Homo sapiens: one gene and its partners. The protein of the gene in region 3 purifies or fractionates together with the protein of the main gene of each other region. This does not show direct contact. Each region holds a gene or a part of one and is shown on either strand. Other genes may lie near its edges. The genes, in order: HDAC1, HDAC2, SAP30L, INSR and HDAC3.

Region 1 (3,520 bases), on a different chromosome or scaffold from region 3:
CTTTGGGATTCAGATTTGGCTCTGCCATTGAGAAGCTTTGTAATATCAGGCAAGTCACCTTACATTTCAGATTTCTCTCCTATAAAATCAAAATGATAGGAGTTCCTATTATGAGAACAATGATGGGAAAGCTCTTTAAGAGTTTAAAGTATGGCTGGCGCCATGGCTCACGTCTGTAATCCCAGCACTTTGAGAGGCCGAGGTGGGCGGATCACTTGAGGTCAGGAGTTCAAGACAAGCCTGGGCAACATGGTGAAACCCTGACTCTACTAAAAATACAAAACTTAGCCAGGCGTGGTGGCACATGTCTGTAATCCCAGCTACTCAGGAGGCTGAGGCAGGAGAATTGTTTGAACCTGGGAGGCAGAGGTTGCAGTGAGCCTGAGATCGCACCACTGCACTCCAGCCTGGGTGACAGAGTGAGACTCTGTCTCCAAAAATAAAAATTAAAATTAAGTAGTACCTAAATAAAAAGGACCATTTCTTTTAAAGTCTCTCAGCAACCTGATTAAGATATAGAGATATATCTTTATTTTAATTACAGTAAATTTAATCATAAAGGATGCAGTCACCCAAGAAGTTATATAGAAGAGGATCCAGGGTGGAATTCTAAGGAAGTGGACAGTGTCCCTCATGCTGTGTGCTCCCCTGTCATAGCATTTGTCAATGTGTATAGGAATACACACAGCACGGGTTGGCAAACTAATTAAAAACTGTTAAGAAAAGGATGGTTGGCCTGCACTGTTGGAGGCTCACATCTGTAATCCCAGCACTTTAGAAGGCTGATCAGGAGTTTGAAACCAGCCTGGGCAACAAAGCAAGATGCCATCTCTACAAACAAACAAACAAAAACATCAAACAAAAAAAAACATAAAAAGAAAAGGATGCTGTCTCAGAGCCCCACCCTCACTACCCTCACCTCAGATACTCCCTTAACCTTCTGGATAAGATATCTTAGTCCCCCAGGTCTGAGCCTTGGCTGGATCTAGGCTTGATAGGCAAGGGAGTTGCTAGGGATCAAGGCTCATGCCTTTTTTTCACTGGGTGCCTAGAGCTCTGCCTCATCCTAATAAATCTCTAAGGAGAGATCTTTGGGTGTGTAGTTCACTTGATTTTGCAACATTGTTCAAGGAATTTTCTATCAGGTAGACTTATAGAGCCCTCTAGATTAAGTGCAAACTGAAGTAGGTACCTGAGAAGCCCAATGTAGGGCCTGGCACGGTGGCTCACACCTGTAATCCCAGCACTTTGGGAGGCCGAGGTGGACGGATCACGAGGTCAGGAGATCAAGACCATCCTGGTTAACACGGTGAAACCCCGTCTTTACTAAAAGTACAAAAAAAATTAGCCGGGCTTGATGGCAGGCATCTGTAGTCCCAGCTGCTTGGGAGGCTGAGGCAGGAGAATGGCGTGAACCCTGGAGGCGGAGCTTGCAGTGAGCCGAGATCGCACCACTGCACTCCAGCCTGGGCGACAGAGCGAGACTCTGTCTCAAAAAAAAAGAAAAAAGGAAAATCCAATGTAGCTTTTAGCATATTGGATTTGGAGTCCGAAGAGTGGACTCCAGATCAGTCATTAGCTGTGTGATCTTGAGCAGGCACTTAACTTCTCTGAGTCTCAATTCAATTCATTGAATCTTTATTGAGCCTCTGTGATATACAAGGCATATTAATCCTTGCCTTCAAGGGGTACCCAGTCTTGTGGATATAGTCATGTAAATAATTCAGATATAAAACAATCCTAGCACTTTGGGAGGCTGAGGTGGGCATATCACTTGAGGTGAGGAGTTCCAGACCAGCCAGGCCAACATAGTGAAACCCCACCTCTACTAAATATGAAAATTAGCTGGATTTGGTGGCACGCACCTGTAATCCCAGCAATTTAGGAGGCTGAGGCAGGAGAACTGCTTGAACCTGGGAGGCAGAGGTTGCACTGAGCCGCCGAGATAGTACCATTGCACTCCAGCCTAGGCGACAGAGTGAGACTCCGTCTCAAGAAATAAAAAAAAAAAGAAAAGAAAACTAATGAAGTGCTGTATACAAATTGCATGTAGAGGAAAAGACCATTTATTTTGATCAAGAAAGGGTTTGGAGCTTGAGGTGGGCTTTGTAGTATGAGCATCATCAAAGAAAGGAGGACATTTCAGGTCAAAGGAATAGTCTGCACAGAGGATACTGTGGTGTGAAGGTGAATGTCATGTTCAGGATACTGATCATAATCTGGTGTGTCTGGAGCACAGGTTGGCAAACTTTTTCTATATAGGGCCAGATAGTAAATATTTTAGGCTTTATTTTGCCATATGCTTGGGTGTCTGTGGCAACTAAACTGCTCAGCTCTGCCACTGTAGTGTGAAAACAGCCATAGAGGAACTGTAAACGGATGGGCATGGCTGTGTTCCAATAAAATTTTATTTACCAAAACAGGCAACTAGTTGTATTTGTCCCAAGGGCCATAGTTTGCCTACTCCAGTCTAGAGCAAAGAGAGAGAGAGAGTGAGTGTGTGTGTGTTGTGGGAAAGGGTGGTAGCAGGAGATGAAGCTGGAAAGGCAGGTTAAGAAAGTCCTTGGATGAAGCTGGAAAGGCAGATTAAGAAAGTCCTTGGCCGGGCGCGGTGGCTCATGCCTGTAATCCCAGCACTTTGGGAGGCCGAGGCGGGCAGATCACAAGGTCAGGAGATCAAGACCATCCTGGCTAACACAATGAAACCCCGTCTGTACTAAAAATACAAAAAATTAGCTGGGCATGGTGGCAGGCGCCTGTAGTCCCAGCTACTCGGGAGGCTGAGGCAGGAGAATGGCGTGAACCCTGGAGGCGGAGCTTGCAGTGAGCTGAGATCGCGCCACTGCACTCCAGCCTGGGCAACACAGCGAGACTCTGTCTCAAAAAAATAAATAAATAAAGTAAAAGAAAGTCCTTGAATGCTGGCCAGGCGCGGTGGCTCACACCTGTAATCCCGGCACTTTGGGAGGCCGAGGTGAGTGGATCAACTGAGGTTAGGAGTTTGAGACCAGCCTGACCAACAAGGTGAAACCCCTTCTCTACTAAAAATACAAAAATTAGCCAGGCATGGTAGCACATGCCTGTGATGCCAGCTACTTGAGAGGCTGAGGCAGGAGAATTGTTTGAACCCAGGAGGCGAAGGTTGCAGTGAGCTGAGATTGCACCACTGCACTCCAGCTTGGGCAACAGATCGAGACTTGTCTCAAAAAAAAGAAAGTCCTTGAATGCCAGTCTTCTGAAGTTATTATTATTAAATGTTGAGACCCAGCCTGGTCTTGAACTCCTGGGCTCAAGTGATTTTCCTGCCTCAGCCTCCAGAGTAACTGGGATTACAGGCTCATGCCACCATGCCTATCTCTATTAAAGTTATTCTTTACTCTTTATCCTGTAGGGGATGGGGAGCCATAAGGATTTTTTGAGCGAAGGAGTGATGTTATCAGAATTGTGGATTAGGAAAATAACTCTGGTGACAGTGTGGCAGGTAGTGTGAATTGAAGGTAGAGGGACCAATTAGAAGGCT
Region 2 (3,520 bases), on a different chromosome or scaffold from region 3:
AAATGATAGACTTCAAACCATTAAAATAGCTTGACTGTCCTGACCCTGTGGGGAATTAGTTCCAAGACTTCCACAGATAGCAAAATTCATGGGTGTTTAAGTTCCTTCAATAAACTGGTATAGTATTTGCATATAACCTATGTATATCTCCCCTTACACTTTAAGTCATCTCTAGATTACTCATAATACCTAATACAATGCAAATGCAGTGTAAATAGTTGTTACACTGTATGATTTAGGGGAAGATTACAAGGAAAAAAAGTCTCTACGTGTTTCCAGCAGACACCACCATCTATTTTTTAAAAATATTTTCAGTCTGCAGTTGATTGAATCCACAGATACAGAGGGTTGACTTTATATATTTGAGAGGCTTCTTGTTATTTACTATTATAGGAAACACTGGAGCTTTACCTAAAAGTATTAATTTTATTGAAATTTAGTTGATGAAAATCTGTGATTTTGTTATTTTCTCTTTTTTAAATCTTATGCATAAGTTTAAAGACATTGTGATATAAGATGCCGTTTAAAAAGACAGGCTAGGAATTACAACTTTTTAGTCATGAAGAATGAGACAGTATTTTTATTACCTTGAAAAATGTAATGCTGTGTCTTAGTGGAGCAAAACCTCATTTAGGACCTAAATTTCAGTTACCAAAACTTCCCTGATGGGCTTTAATATGGACACGGTATGTTTTAACATGCAAAACGCCAATTATGAGATTTCTGAAATGCCAGCAAATCATCCAAAAAGCAGTATTTGCTGAAAAAATTTTAAATCATACCAATAAAACTCAGAGAACTTAAAAGCATGTGAATTTGCCAGAGAATACAGAAAGCAGGCATCATTTCAAGGAACAGAAATTTTAAAAATTGGGGGTAGCTAAAAATCAGAAAAGCTTGCTTTCCTTAATCTACAAATAAATATAATGTGTAATAATGGAGTCTTCAGCTGGTAAAAGTGTGCGTAGCGTCTTAGTCATCTGATACAGTTTGAAAGTTGCAAAATAAATCTAAGTTGCTAAGGTTTTAAATAAATTTTGTTAAGTAGTAAATGCCTTCTAATGATAGACATACATAAATTCAAATAGTTCATGGAGGGTCTCTTGTCTGTATTGTTTAGTTTGTGTCTTTTCTATTTTAGGTGATATTGGAAATTATTATTATGGACAGGGTCATCCCATGAAGCCTCATAGAATCCGCATGACCCATAACTTGCTGTTAAATTATGGCTTATACAGAAAAATGGAAATATATGTGAGTATTCCTTTTAATACATATTCAGCACTGATCTTTTTTATTTTTTTTTAGCTACTGTGAAACTTTGTCTATTATTCCCCTTTTGAGGGCATTTAGCAGATGAAAAGATCTGGAAGAAAACAAACTTCTTTTTTCGTTTATTCTTAGGAGATGAATAAGAATGAGAGCTATACCCTCTTTTTCCTTTTCCTTTAACCATTTAAAAAAGTTCCCCCTACCCTAGGCTTTCATGGTTCTGGAGAACAACTCAGTATAGCAACAACTCAGTGTAGCATATTAAGTATTTTTTTTTTTTTTTTTTTTTTTACAATAATTGTTAATCTGCCTGTGCTGCTGAAAAGAGTTGACCTGGGACTGTTACAAAATAATAACACATAAAATTAATCCCACAAATATTTGCAGGGCATATAATACATATGGAATACTGTGTTAGTGTGGCCAAGCATAGTACAGATAACACAAGTGCAACAGCTGCCTTAATGTTTTTGTAGATAAAGATGAGGGTATGTATAAACAAATACAGACACGACAATTAGCTATTTGGGGAGAAAAGAAATATTTAAAACAATTAATGCTAGGCAATATATGTGAATATGTGAATTATTTTCAGTTACATGTAGACATTTAGAGAAGAGGGGAAGTTAGAATAAGACTCAGTCTGGAAGTCTTGTGGAAGAATTGTGTCATACGTGAAATTGAGCTCTTCGGAACAAGGAAGATTAGGATAGAAAAAAGGACGAGAGGTCGTGAACAAAGATTTAGAATTGAAAACTCTTGTAGTGAGTGATTTCATTGATGAAATCACTGGATGTTTTATCATGGAAAAGGAGAGAAAGTAGAGTTTATGAACATATGGATTTGACTTTTTACTCGAACTGTTTCCACTAAAATAAGGAGTGATTAAATCATAGTTGATATGCCTGTGTAATGCTTTTAAAGGAGTTTGAATTAGTTTTGAGATTGATTACTGTTTTCTAAAACACATATAAGTTTGGGTTAGTTTTGGAATTTATATATTTTGTTCTGGTAGACTTGGTTCTTTTGAGGGGACCGATAGGGGAATTTGTATATTTGTTTGATAATACTGATATAACCGGTTGTAATTCCACAGTTCTGACATTTATTTCTCTTCACAGAGGCCCCATAAAGCCACTGCCGAAGAAATGACAAAATATCACAGTGATGAGTATATCAAATTTCTACGGTCAATAAGACCAGATAACATGTCTGAGTATAGTAAGCAGATGCAGAGATGTACGTTTCTAAGTAAAAAGTAGTTTTGCTTTGATAAATGTAAATTAGTATTTTTAGGAGCTTAGAATGATCTAAATCTGAATATTTTTCCTGTTGGTCTAATATGTTACAGTTATTTACTGATTTGAAAAGTCATTTTAACACTACTAAAGCTACTTAAGAAAAAAGTAAACCTATCTGAAGCTTATTGGTTTGCAAAACTGCTGTTTGGGTATTCTTCTACTCCTAGTTTGCTCCCCTGATAACTTTGGGTTAATACATATTGGTAGGGAGACCTCACTCCCTTACTCCCTCGCTTCAAAAAAACAAAAACAAGATTACACTTTGATTAGCCTTAGCTTGGCATGTACATATCTCTTGTCTTGTCTTTGTGTACTTCAGTTAACCTGGACTATAATACACATCTCTTTTTCTTTGTTAAGATATTAGTGAAGCTTTTGATTCTACGTAATGTTCTCTTGTACAGGTTAAAAGTATTTTATTTTTAGAGATTAGTAACAAATTGGCTTGAAGGTAGAATGCAAAAGTCAACCTAAAATTATTGGAACAGTATCTTTTAAAGCTTGATACCAAAGTTCATTCTCATTAGTGTTTGTATTGACTGACTTCAGTGATGATTATACTAAATTAGTGTAGGTGCTAGACATCTCATATTTACAACCTCATACACATTTCTGCCATATCTTGTTTGATTTGTTATAATGCTACAATGTAACTAGAACATGTAGTATTTAATTTTTTTTTTTTCAATGAAGATTCCAACTTAGATGCAAAAGAGGCATGAGTAGCCCTTGGGCAAACAACATAACAGGATTGATTTAAAACCCACATAATAATGAGTTCTATTAAGCTTATGATCCTGGCCAGGTGTGGTGGCTCACGCCTGTAATCCCAGCACTTTGGGAGGCGGAGGTGAGTGGATTACCTGAGGTCAGGAGTTCGAAACCAGCCTGGCCAACATGGCAAAACCCTGTCTCTATTAAAAAAGTACAGAAAATTAGCTGGGTGT
Region 3 (3,520 bases):
TCCGATTTCTGGTCCAGTCTACTCTTGTTACTCTTCACCATGTAGATGAAGTAGGCAAGGGTCTCTTTTTCATTCACAGGTATGTTCCTGAAGTGTCGACTCACAGTCTATGTGGGGGGAAAATACCAAAGTTCCTTAAACCATGCACAAATCACACCGCAAATTCTACATTGTACAAAGAAGCGAATGGAGTTGTTTGCATGCTGTGGCGGGAATGACAAATGCTGAAGAACTTCCTGCCATGTGCGGAACTCAGAGTGCCCTTTGCCCTTCCTCCCCAGGGATGTAGGTGGTTTAATTTCCAGGATCCAAAAGTGGCTTTTTAACCTACAACTCTTCCAAGGTGCAGTTCTATTTCAGTGGCAGCCAACCACCTGTCATGGCATGATTTCACAGTCATACTCATGGAGGAGAGACTGGGACTGCTCTGGTTGGCCAGCTGCTACCAAACCTCTCAGGCCTTGAAAGTGGGAAGAAATGTGTCTTTAAAAAATTGTGGGGCAGGCGTGGTGGCTCACACCTATAATCCCAATGCTTTGGGAGGTTAAGGTGGGAGGATTAGTTGAGGCCAGGAGTTCGAGACCAGCCTAGGCAACACAGTGGAGAACTCATCTCTACCAAAAAATTAGCCAGGTGTCGTAGCATGCACCTGTGGTCCCAGCTACTCAGGAGGCTGAGGTGGGAGGATCACTTGAGCCCAGGAGGTTGAAGCTGCAGTGAGCTGTGACTGCACCCCAGCCTAGGAGACAGAGCAAGACCTTGTCTCAAAAACAAATAAAAATTGGGTTAGGCTGGGGATGGTGGCTCACACCTGTAATCCTAGCACTTTGGGAGGCCAAGGCAGGCAGATCACCTGAAGTCAGGAGTCCGAGACCAGCCTGGCCAACATGGTGAAACCCAGCCTCTACTAAAAATACAAAGATTAGCCGGGTGTGGTGACAGGCACCTGTAATCCCAGCCACTCGGGAAACATGGAGAAGAATCACTTGAACCCGGGAGGTGGAGGCTGTGGTGAGCTGAGATCATAGCAATGCACTCCAGCCTGGGAGATAGAGCAAGACTCTGTCTTTAAAAAAAAAAAAAAATTGTGTTAAATGAACAGCCAATTGAACAAATTGAACAGAGGCATCTGAACCCCAAAATTCTTCTAAGTAGTGCATAACTGCCTCCTGAAAGACATATCAGGTTTGAAGGAAAATGCATCATTTACTAATGCTCCTAATACTTCATTCCATAAGTAATGAGAATGCAGGTCTCCTCTTGCCCCACCTCATTCTTTCCCTTCCACCAGGGAGAACACTGGCAAATGGGTGATGTTATTTTAAAGTAGGAGAGGCTTCTGACCTCCTGTGTGTCATCTGGACACTGGTGAAGGAGTTGTTTAAGAAAAAGTGACGGTCGAGCAAGAAACCTCTAAAGGAAAAACCAAAAATGAAACAGGCTGGAAGCCTTTCAGGAAATCTCAATGGATCAAGGTGGCTGAAACAGATAAAAAAAGACAGAGAACTAGACATAAAGAGTGGTTATCTCTGGATGATAGAATTATATTTTTCTTTTCTCCATTTTCCAACTTTTCTGTAATAGGCAGAAAAATATATTAAGAAAAGAGGGATTAGAAAATACCTGCAGAAATGACAAAGACAGAATTATCAAGCCAGGCAGTTCATGTATTTTAAAAATGGCCAGTGGAGCATTTCCCCGTAATCCAAACTGTGTTAATAACTCAGGGCAGGAGAAAACTTTCTTGGGTGCCATTCATTAAAATACTGTCATTACCAACACCAGAGTAGGAGAAATCAAGGAAAAAAAAATAGCTCCTGTAGAACATCAAGGTTTTGAAATGATTAATCTGACACACAAAATGATCATATCTAAAAAGCATTTTGCTAAGCCAGGCACAGTGGCTCACGCCTGTAATCTCAGCACTTTGGGAGGCTGAGGTGGAAGGATGGCTTGAGCCAAAGAGAATCACTTGAGCAACATAGTGAGGCTGCATCTCTATAAAAATAAAATTAGCTGTGCATAGGGGTGTGCACCTGTGGTCCTAGCTACTCTGGAGGCTGAGGTGGGAAGGATCACTTGAAGCTGGGAGGTTGGGGCTGCAGTCAGCCCAGACTGAGCCACTGCACTCTAGCCTGGGTGATAAAGCAAAATCTTGTCTCCAAAAAAACAAAAAGAGGAATCTTCCAAAAAAGATTCAAACAAATGAACACTCAGGACTTAGAATCTGGAGTCATGAGATCCCAGGCTCAATTCTGCTATCAACTTGCTGTGTGATTTTAAGCAAATCCTTTCCTCTTTCTGTGCCATGGTTTCTTTTCTGGAACTGAGGCCTTTGCAGGTCTAAAGCTGTGGGGTTCTAAATTGCCAAAGAGGAATACAGAGTTGCTTCCAGAACTCTGGAGGAAATTACAATTAGCAGACACACAAGGTAAGGGAGAATCAGGGTAACCATCAGAAGCAGCACAATGCTGGCTCTCTTTAGAGGGCAATTTTGTCTACCTACTTCTGCTAACTGGGCCTTATTGAAGCCTGGTCTGGTCTGCAACTTGTAGTGTCGTTTATAACGTCGTAGGGTGTTCACCTGCAGCTGGAACAGATCAACCTAGGGAGAAGAGGAGAAAAATGTTATCCATCACCTGACCACCCAGGACTCACCAAGAGCCCACTATGTGCCTAGCACTACACTAAGGTAGGGGTGAGGATGGGGAGGGCTTCAAAAGAGGTCTTAGAAATGGTCTATTGAGGACTAGTAACTGGCTAGGAGGGCAAAAATAACAGTAGAAAAACAGTTCTGGCTGGGGTGGGCTGATCTCACAAAACTGGTGGAAAAGGTAAAGCTTAAGCTAAGGAGGAGCAGGGTCTGATAAAGCACTGAGAAACGGTAGGGAATAGGGGAAAAGATCACAGCACAGAGAGCTGGGAGAGGCACAGATGGGCAAGGGGGTCACAGGCAACTGTGATGAATTTAAAAGGTGAGAATGGATGGTAGCACATCCAGAAAAACAGAAGGAGCTATCACAGAGGGTGGAGGGCGATGGCGCAGGATGGGTCTGGTGGTGGTTGTTGGGAAGACTGATGGGGGGATACGGAGGGAGATGCTATAGCAACAATCAGAATGAGATGAAGAGGCTGAGCTTTGGAGGGGCAGTGATGCTAGAAGGGACACCAAAGATGGAGAGCAAAGGCAAAAACCAGAGACATCCTGGAGGATGATAGGCCAGAACGAGGCAGCGACCGGATAGAGGAGCACAAAGGAGGGCTGTTATCCTCAAATAGCTCTTTGCTAGGCCCAGCCTTCTGGTATTAGAATCCTTAACCTCCCTCCAGAGAAAGTTCAAAAGTTACTGTAGTGAATGTGCAATCCAGCAGGTTAGGGCTGGGGTCTTTGCAGATGACTGGATAACAGAGGGGAAGGGACCCCCCCTTTTTGTTTCTAACAAAGGAAGAGAGGAAAGCTGCATAGTCATGAAAAATTGAAGGCCCATAAAGTTGGGCTGCCTTTACCTGCCTCTAAAAG
Region 4 (3,520 bases), on a different chromosome or scaffold from region 3:
AAGGAAGAGTAGAGAGCAGGGCTTCAGCACCCTGGGGGGCATTTGAAACAGCCCCATCACCAACTGAAAGCACAAAAATGCTAAAAATGTGGCACCAAATAACCACAAAAAGGACTCAGGTTTTTTTGTTGTTGTTTTTTGTTTTGAGTCTCACCCTGTCACCCAGGCTGGAGTGCAGAGGCACAATCTCGGCTCACTGCAACCTCCACCTCCTGGGTCCAAGTGATTCTCCTGCCTCAGCCTCCGGAGTAGCTCGGACTACAGGCGCCCGCCACCACACCTGGCTAATTTTTTGTATTTTTAGTAGAGACAGGGTTTCACCATGTTAGCCAGGATGGTCTCGATCTCCTGACCTCGTGATCCACTCGCCTCGGACTCCCAAAGCGCTGGGCATGAGCCACTGCGCCTGCTCAAAAAGGACTAGTTTTAATCCTCAGTGTGCAGATTGTATGAATCTGACGCATAAGGGCTGAAGCAAGAAGGTGGAATGCCCTCTTACTTGACCTCACATTTGAGACTCGTACTTATGAGTGTCCTAAAATGACCAGAAAGGCACTGAGCATGCTGGTTTGAGGGTTACAAATACATTTGAGTGAGTAGGTGAATTCAAAAATACAGGGTCTGGGGCCAGGTGCAGTGGCTCATGCCTGTAATCCCAGTACTTTAGGAAGTCAAGATGGGAGGATCACTTGAGGCCAGGAGTTCGAGACCAGCCTGGGCAACATAGCGAGCCCTTATCCCTGCTGAAAAGTTAAAAATTAGGCCGGGCACAGTGGCTCGCGCCTGTAATCCCAGCACTTTGGGAGGCTGAAGTGGGCGGATCACTTGAAGCCAGGAGTTTGAGACCAGCCTGACCAACATGGTAAAACCCCATCTCTACTAAAAATAAAAAAAACTAGCCGGGCATGGTGGCGTGCCTGTAACCCCAGCTACTAGAAAGGCTGAGGCAGGAGAGTTGCTTGAGCCCAGGAAGCAGAGGTTGCAGTGAACCCAGATCACACCACTGCAGTCTGGCCTGGGCAACAGAGTTAGTGAGACTCCGTCTCAAAAATAAATAAATAAATAAATAACAATAAAAACTAGCTGAGCATGGTGGTGTGTGCCTGTAGTCCCAGCTACTCAGGAGGCTGAGGCAGGAGGATCGTTGATGCTCAAGAGTTGGAGGCTGCAGGGAATTAGGACCACACCACTGCACTCCAGCCTGGGTATCAGAGCAAGAACCTGCCTCTCAAAATAAAAATTTAAATTTTAAATTTTAAAAAGAAAATATGGGATCTGGGAATGATGAGGATCAACCAGACTCAAATTTAAAATTTCAACTTTAGGAATATTAATCCAATTATAAGATAAAATCTTTTAAAGTCTAGAGAAAACTATAGGGATGGAGAACAGATCTGTGGTTAGGGGTGGAGGTGGTTTAGTGATAAAGGGGTGAATTGAGGGAGTTTGGACAACAACGAGACTGTTCTCTATCCTAATTGTGGCAATAGCCATACAACTCTACACATGGCTTAAAAATCATAAAATGGTACACCTTTAAAAAGCCAATTTTACTGTATGATAATGTTTAAAATATTTTGTTGTTGTTGTTGTTACACAGTCTCACTATGTCACCCAGGCTGGATGCAGTGGTGCAATCACAGCTCACTGGCGCCTCGACTTCCCAGGCTCAGGTGATCCTCCCACCTCAGCCTCCCTAGTAGCTGGGACCACAGGTGCTCACCACTGTATCTGGATAATTTTTTTGTAGGGTTTTGTAGAGACGGGGTCTTGCTATGTTACCCAGGCTGGTCTTGAACTCCTGGGCTCAAGAGATCCACCTGCTTCGGCCTCCCAAAGTGCTGGGATTACAGGAGTGGCCCCATGACACCTAGCCTAAAAAATTACTAAACATCAAAAAGATACATAAACCAATGGCACAGTTACCTCCCTGGACATGAATGGAATGCTTTTGGGGACAGGGGGACAAGATTTTTTTTTATTATTTCTTTTCTTTTTGAGACAGGGTCGGGCTCTATCACCCAGGTTGGAGTGCAGTGGCATGAATATGGCTTACTGTAGCCTCAACCTTCTGGGCTCAAGCGATCCTCCCACCTCAGCCTCCTGAGTAGCTGGGACTACCGGTACACACCACCATGCTCAGCTAATTTTTAAACTTTTTCTAGAGATAATGTCTCATTATGTTGCCCAGGCTGGTCTCAAACTGCTGGCTTCAAGTGTTCCTCCCACCTCAGCTTCCTAAAAAGTCCAGGGATTACAGGTGTGAGCCACTGCACCCCACCACAAGATTTTGCAGAAGGACTTCTGTGTTTTTTTTTTCCTTTCTACACTTTTGTAATTTTTCTTTTTGCAATGAGAATGCATTACCCGTCACTATTTAATTAAAAACTGTAAATACCATGCAGCTGCAAAATATCAACCAGGCCACCCCAAGAAGTATTCTTTTTTTGTTTGAGACAGAGAGAGGATCTCACTGTTGCCCAGGCTGGAGTGCAGTGGTACAATCACAGCTCACTGCAGCCTTGCCCTTCCAGCCTCAAGAGGTCCTCCCATCTCAGCCTCCCAAGTAGCTGGGACTACAGACACATGCCACCATGCCCAGCTAATTTTTGTTTTATTGTTAGTGGAGACAGGGTCTTGCTGTGTTGTCCAGGCTGATCTGAAACTCCTGGACACATGTAATCCTCCCACCTCAGCCTCCCAGAGTGCTGGGATTGCAGGCATGAGCCACTGCACCTGGCCAAAAATATTCTTTTTTTTTTTTTTTTTTGAGATGGAGTTTCGCTCTGTCACCCAGGCTAGAGTGCAGTGGCGCAATCTCGGCTCACTGCAACCTCCACCTCCCAGGTTCAAGCGATTCTCCTGCCTCAGCCTCCCAACTAGCTGGGATTACAGGCATGCGCCACCACGCCTGGCTAATTTTGTATTTTTTCAGTAAAGATGGGGTTTCACCATGTTGGTCAGGCTGGTCTCGAACTCCTGACCTCAAGTGATCCACCCACCTCGGCCTCCCAAAGTGCTTGGGATTACAGGCGTGAGCCACCACACCTGGCCCAGAAGTATTCTTAACAGAAATTAACACAAGAGAGGCCTGAGAGAAAAAAAAAAAATCTCATTATATACACCAGTTATATTTTGGGTTCTAGATACAGGGTTGAGAGCATGAAATCCTCATTCAATGCCAATATAGCTGTTTAAATAAATACACATGGCTAAGTAGGCAACATCACGGTGATTTTTCTCATCCTTGGAATCCGTATATTCAGTGCAGCAAATGACACACGTTTCTTTAACATCTCTTGCGGTGTAAAGAGAAAGACATAGCGTTTCATTTCACTCACTTCATTCGAGTTGTACCAGGGACTGCACAAGCTATTAGGCATGCTATCATGAATGAAACCTCAAGGCGTCTGTTCCAGATCAGAGGTCAGCAAACGCTGTTCTGTAAAGGGCCAAAGTGTAAATATTTTGGCCATGGAATTCCTGTTTTAACTACTCAACCTGCCGTGTCGGGGCATTT
Region 5 (3,254 bases), about 13 Mb from region 3:
CCAGATGTTCAGACACTTCCTCACTCAGAAGGGATCGGGGGATATCCTTGGAGGAAGAGAGTTGCAGAGATCCCCAAGAGTCAGAGCAGTAAAGCCCAGGTCCAGAGGAGAGATTCGGAGGCCTGAATTCTAAGACAGAAGCAGATTCTAGAAGGGGCTGAGAAGCCCATCAGGCTCTGCAGCAGAGCCGGCTCAAACCTCTAACCCTGCGTGGGAGCAAGACAGCGTGTCCCACAAGTGTCCAGCTGTGGTTATCCCTCAGTCATGTAAGGAAATCTGTTCCCCATTAAGTGCATCTGTTTCTGCACTTCTTGGTTCTGTTGTCTTTCCCTTTCATTTTTCAGCAAAGTTTTGGGATTAAAAAAAAATTCCATCCTATCCTTTTTCCCCCCTAATTCATTCCATCTACAAATATTTTGTATGTATCTCAGAAAGATAAAGACTTTTAAAAAAAAAAAAAAAACATAACCACAATGCAATTATCCCACCCGAAAAAATTAACAGAGCAAAGAAATCAAAGAGCCTTAGAGAGTATTACGCAGGCAGTGACCTGTCCAGCTCAAGACCTGGAAAGACTGAGAAAAATGCTGGCAAGACTATAGGGTGCTACAGACTTTCTGGACGGCAATTTGGCAGCAAATATAAAAAATTTTAGGCCAGGCTCAGTGGCTCACGCCTATAATCCCAGCACTTTGGAAGGCTGGGGCAGGAGGACATTTGAGCCCAGGAGTTTGAGACCAGCCTGGGCAACAAGGCAAGACTCCGTCTCTACCAAAAAAAAAAAAAAAAAAAAAAAAAAAAAAAAAAATTAGCCAGGTGTCGTGGTGCACACCTATGATTCCAGCTACTCGAGGGGCTGAGGCAGGAGGATCGCTTGAACCCAGGAGTTCAAGATTGCAGTGAGCTATAATCATGCCACTGTACTCCAGCCTGGGTGACAGAATGAGACCCTGTCTCAAAAAAAAAAAAAAAAAAAAAATTAATGCACACAGCCTTTGACCTAGCAGCAACCATTCTACTATCTAACCCACTCAAACAAGAATGCAAAGATGTATAATGTAAGGGGGTTCATTGCCACATTATTATTGTAATACCAAAAAAATGGAAAATAATCTATCCACATAGTAAATTATTATACAGCTGATAAAATACTGAAGCAGATCTATATTAGCTAGCTGAAAACAGCTATATGATGTAAAGCAGCATACGTAGAATGACCCTATTTGTATTTACGAAAAACCAAAAACCACACAAACTGTAAATGAGTGTATATGTGTTTGTTTATATGTACATACAGAATAGTATATTTGCAATCTATAGAAAAAGGTCTATCCAAAACAATAAAAACTATTAACAGTGGTTACTCCTGTGGAATAGGTCTGGGATTGTGTGAACGCCAACACCATATTTTGGTGCTGTTTTAAAATTTTGCAATAAATACGTGTTACTTTTGTCATTAAAAATAACAAAGAAAAGAGTGAGGAAATTGTAGCAGACTAAAGGAGGTAAGCCAGAGGCAATTAAACTAATACCTTCCCATTTACTTTTTCCCTTTTAAACCTCCCCAGCAAGCCTATTGAAAGTAGGCTGAAGTCCCTGCTCCCAGACCTGCTATAGTTCTCCTCAGGACCCCTCTCCTCTGCATCAGCCTCATCAGTCCTGTCATAGGTCAGGAGGTCTGCAGGCACGTCATGAATCTGGACACTAGGTGCATGGTTCAGCATCTTCAGGTTTTCAAAGATTGTCTGGCGGATCTGGTCCAGATACTGGTTGGAAATGAGGAATACAGAGTGAGCAGTTTCCAGAGATTCCCAGGACATGGAATCTCCTAGCTGCCTTTTACCCCTACCATACTGGTTTTCATCTCAGTGGTACCTCTAGTTCAGGTCCCCCAACTGATAGCTCTCCCTCCCCACCAACCCCAACTGCCTCTACTTTAAACTGGACTGCCTCCTAGTCAATAACAGTGACTGTGATGGCTTAGAACTTCCTTCTCTTTGGTTTTTCCTACTTCCCACATCTTTGACCTCTCCTGGGCTCCACCTTTCAGGAGAAGTTTGTGCTCAGCTTTTCTGAGCTGCTGACCTGGCGTGAGTTCTGATTCTCGATGCGGGTGCTGACATCTGGATGAAGTGTGAAGTCTGGGGCAAAGTACTCGAAGTATTCTTGGGGAGGAGAGGAGAAAGTATGGCTCAGACTGAGAAAGGCAGCTAACAAGACTTCCCAATCTTTTTCCTTCCCATCCAGAGCACCTACATAATAGCTGCCCAATCTCTTCCCTGCTCTGAGCCCAGGGGTTTAGTCTGCAGAGCTCTGAGAGTGTAAAATTTCCCATGTGCCTTCAAACCAGGTCATTCTGGAATCTGGTGAGAATGGCCTTCCTGTTATGGGGGTGTTGTGGGGTGGTCCTTACCACTATAGGGAAGCTCCTCACTAATGGCCTCTTCTACCAGCAGCGATGTCTCATATGTCCTGAAACCAACCAGCAGAGGGGAGCAGGCTGACCAAGTGGGCTGAAGGACCCATGTGGCCATATCTGAGGGACACCCTAGCTCACACTGGACAACAGGGGAGGAAATCAGGAGAGTGCTCACCAGCAGCGGGCAACATTTCGGACAGTATAACCACCACCACCCAGCACGAGTAGAGGGATATTGAAGCTCTTGACATATTCAACGCATTCCCTGTTAAAAGGAACCAGAGGAAGATGTGGAGGAGGTTATCAAAAGACAAGGTAAATACCTTTAGGTATTGCCTGAAAGGAGCACAAGAAAACTATAAATGTTCTAAATCTTTATCTTGATAGTGAAATTCATTATGTTATACCCTTAAGATTTGGGTATACTTTATATGCTGTGTCTCAATAAAAATTTTAAAATAAAGCACAGTCCCCCCTCTGTTCTGCTCAACACCCTCCCTGGCACCCTGCCTGCTAATCAACTATTCTCATCAACCCAAGTTCTGTCAATTCTAGCCTTGAAAATATAACTCACGCCCGGCGCGGTGCTCACGCCTTTGTAGTAGTCCCAGCTACTCAGGAGGCTGAGGCAGGAGAAATGCTTGAACCCAGGAGGCAGAGCTTGCACTGAGCCAAGATCGTGCCACTGCACTCCAGCCTGGGTGACAGAGCAAGACTCCATCTCAAAAAAGAAAAAAAAAAACATATATATGTGTGTGTGTGTGTGTATATATATATATATACACACACACACACACACACCTCTCAGATCATCTACTTCTCTCCATTGCCACCC

Evidence for each region.
Region 1: the proteins of SAP30L (region 3) and HDAC1 purify together in Homo sapiens (co-immunoprecipitation; 6 studies listed by BioGRID and IntAct, with this or other methods). This does not show direct contact.
Region 2: the proteins of SAP30L (region 3) and HDAC2 purify together in Homo sapiens (affinity purification with mass spectrometry; 3 studies listed by BioGRID and IntAct, with this or other methods). This does not show direct contact.
Region 4: the proteins of SAP30L (region 3) and INSR purify together in Homo sapiens (co-immunoprecipitation; one large-scale study listed by IntAct). This does not show direct contact.
Region 5: the proteins of SAP30L (region 3) and HDAC3 purify together in Homo sapiens (affinity purification with western blotting, with the first as the bait; one study listed by BioGRID). This does not show direct contact.

Annotation. Positions count from the first base shown.
Region 1 is NC_000001.11:32,298,565-32,302,084, forward strand, and holds part of HDAC1 (histone deacetylase 1), read left to right. Parts: intron 1-3,520. UniProt on the Homo sapiens protein: Histone deacetylase that catalyzes the deacetylation of lysine residues on the N-terminal part of the core histones (H2A, H2B, H3 and H4).
Region 2 is NC_000006.12:113,957,640-113,961,159, reverse strand, and holds part of HDAC2 (histone deacetylase 2), read left to right. Parts: intron 1-1,141; coding exon 1,142-1,254; intron 1,255-2,393; coding exon 2,394-2,511; intron 2,512-3,520. UniProt on the Homo sapiens protein: Histone deacetylase that catalyzes the deacetylation of lysine residues on the N-terminal part of the core histones (H2A, H2B, H3 and H4).
Region 3 is NC_000005.10:154,452,487-154,456,006, reverse strand, and holds part of SAP30L (histone deacetylase complex subunit SAP30L), read right to left. Parts: exon of another isoform or gene 3,508-3,520; intron 2,606-3,507; coding exon 2,507-2,605; intron 108-2,506; coding exon 1-107.
Region 4 is NC_000019.10:7,284,408-7,287,927, forward strand, and holds part of INSR (insulin receptor isoform Long preproprotein), read right to left. Parts: intron 1-3,520. UniProt on the Homo sapiens protein: Receptor tyrosine kinase which mediates the pleiotropic actions of insulin.
Region 5 is NC_000005.10:141,623,600-141,626,853, forward strand, and holds part of HDAC3 (histone deacetylase 3), read right to left. Parts: intron 2,685-3,254; coding exon 2,595-2,684; intron 2,473-2,594; coding exon 2,414-2,472; intron 2,166-2,413; coding exon 2,086-2,165; intron 1,767-2,085; coding exon 1,609-1,766; coding exon of another isoform or gene 1,521-1,608; exon of another isoform or gene 1,263-1,520; intron 1-1,262. UniProt on the Homo sapiens protein: Histone deacetylase that catalyzes the deacetylation of lysine residues on the N-terminal part of the core histones (H2A, H2B, H3 and H4), and some other non-histone substrates.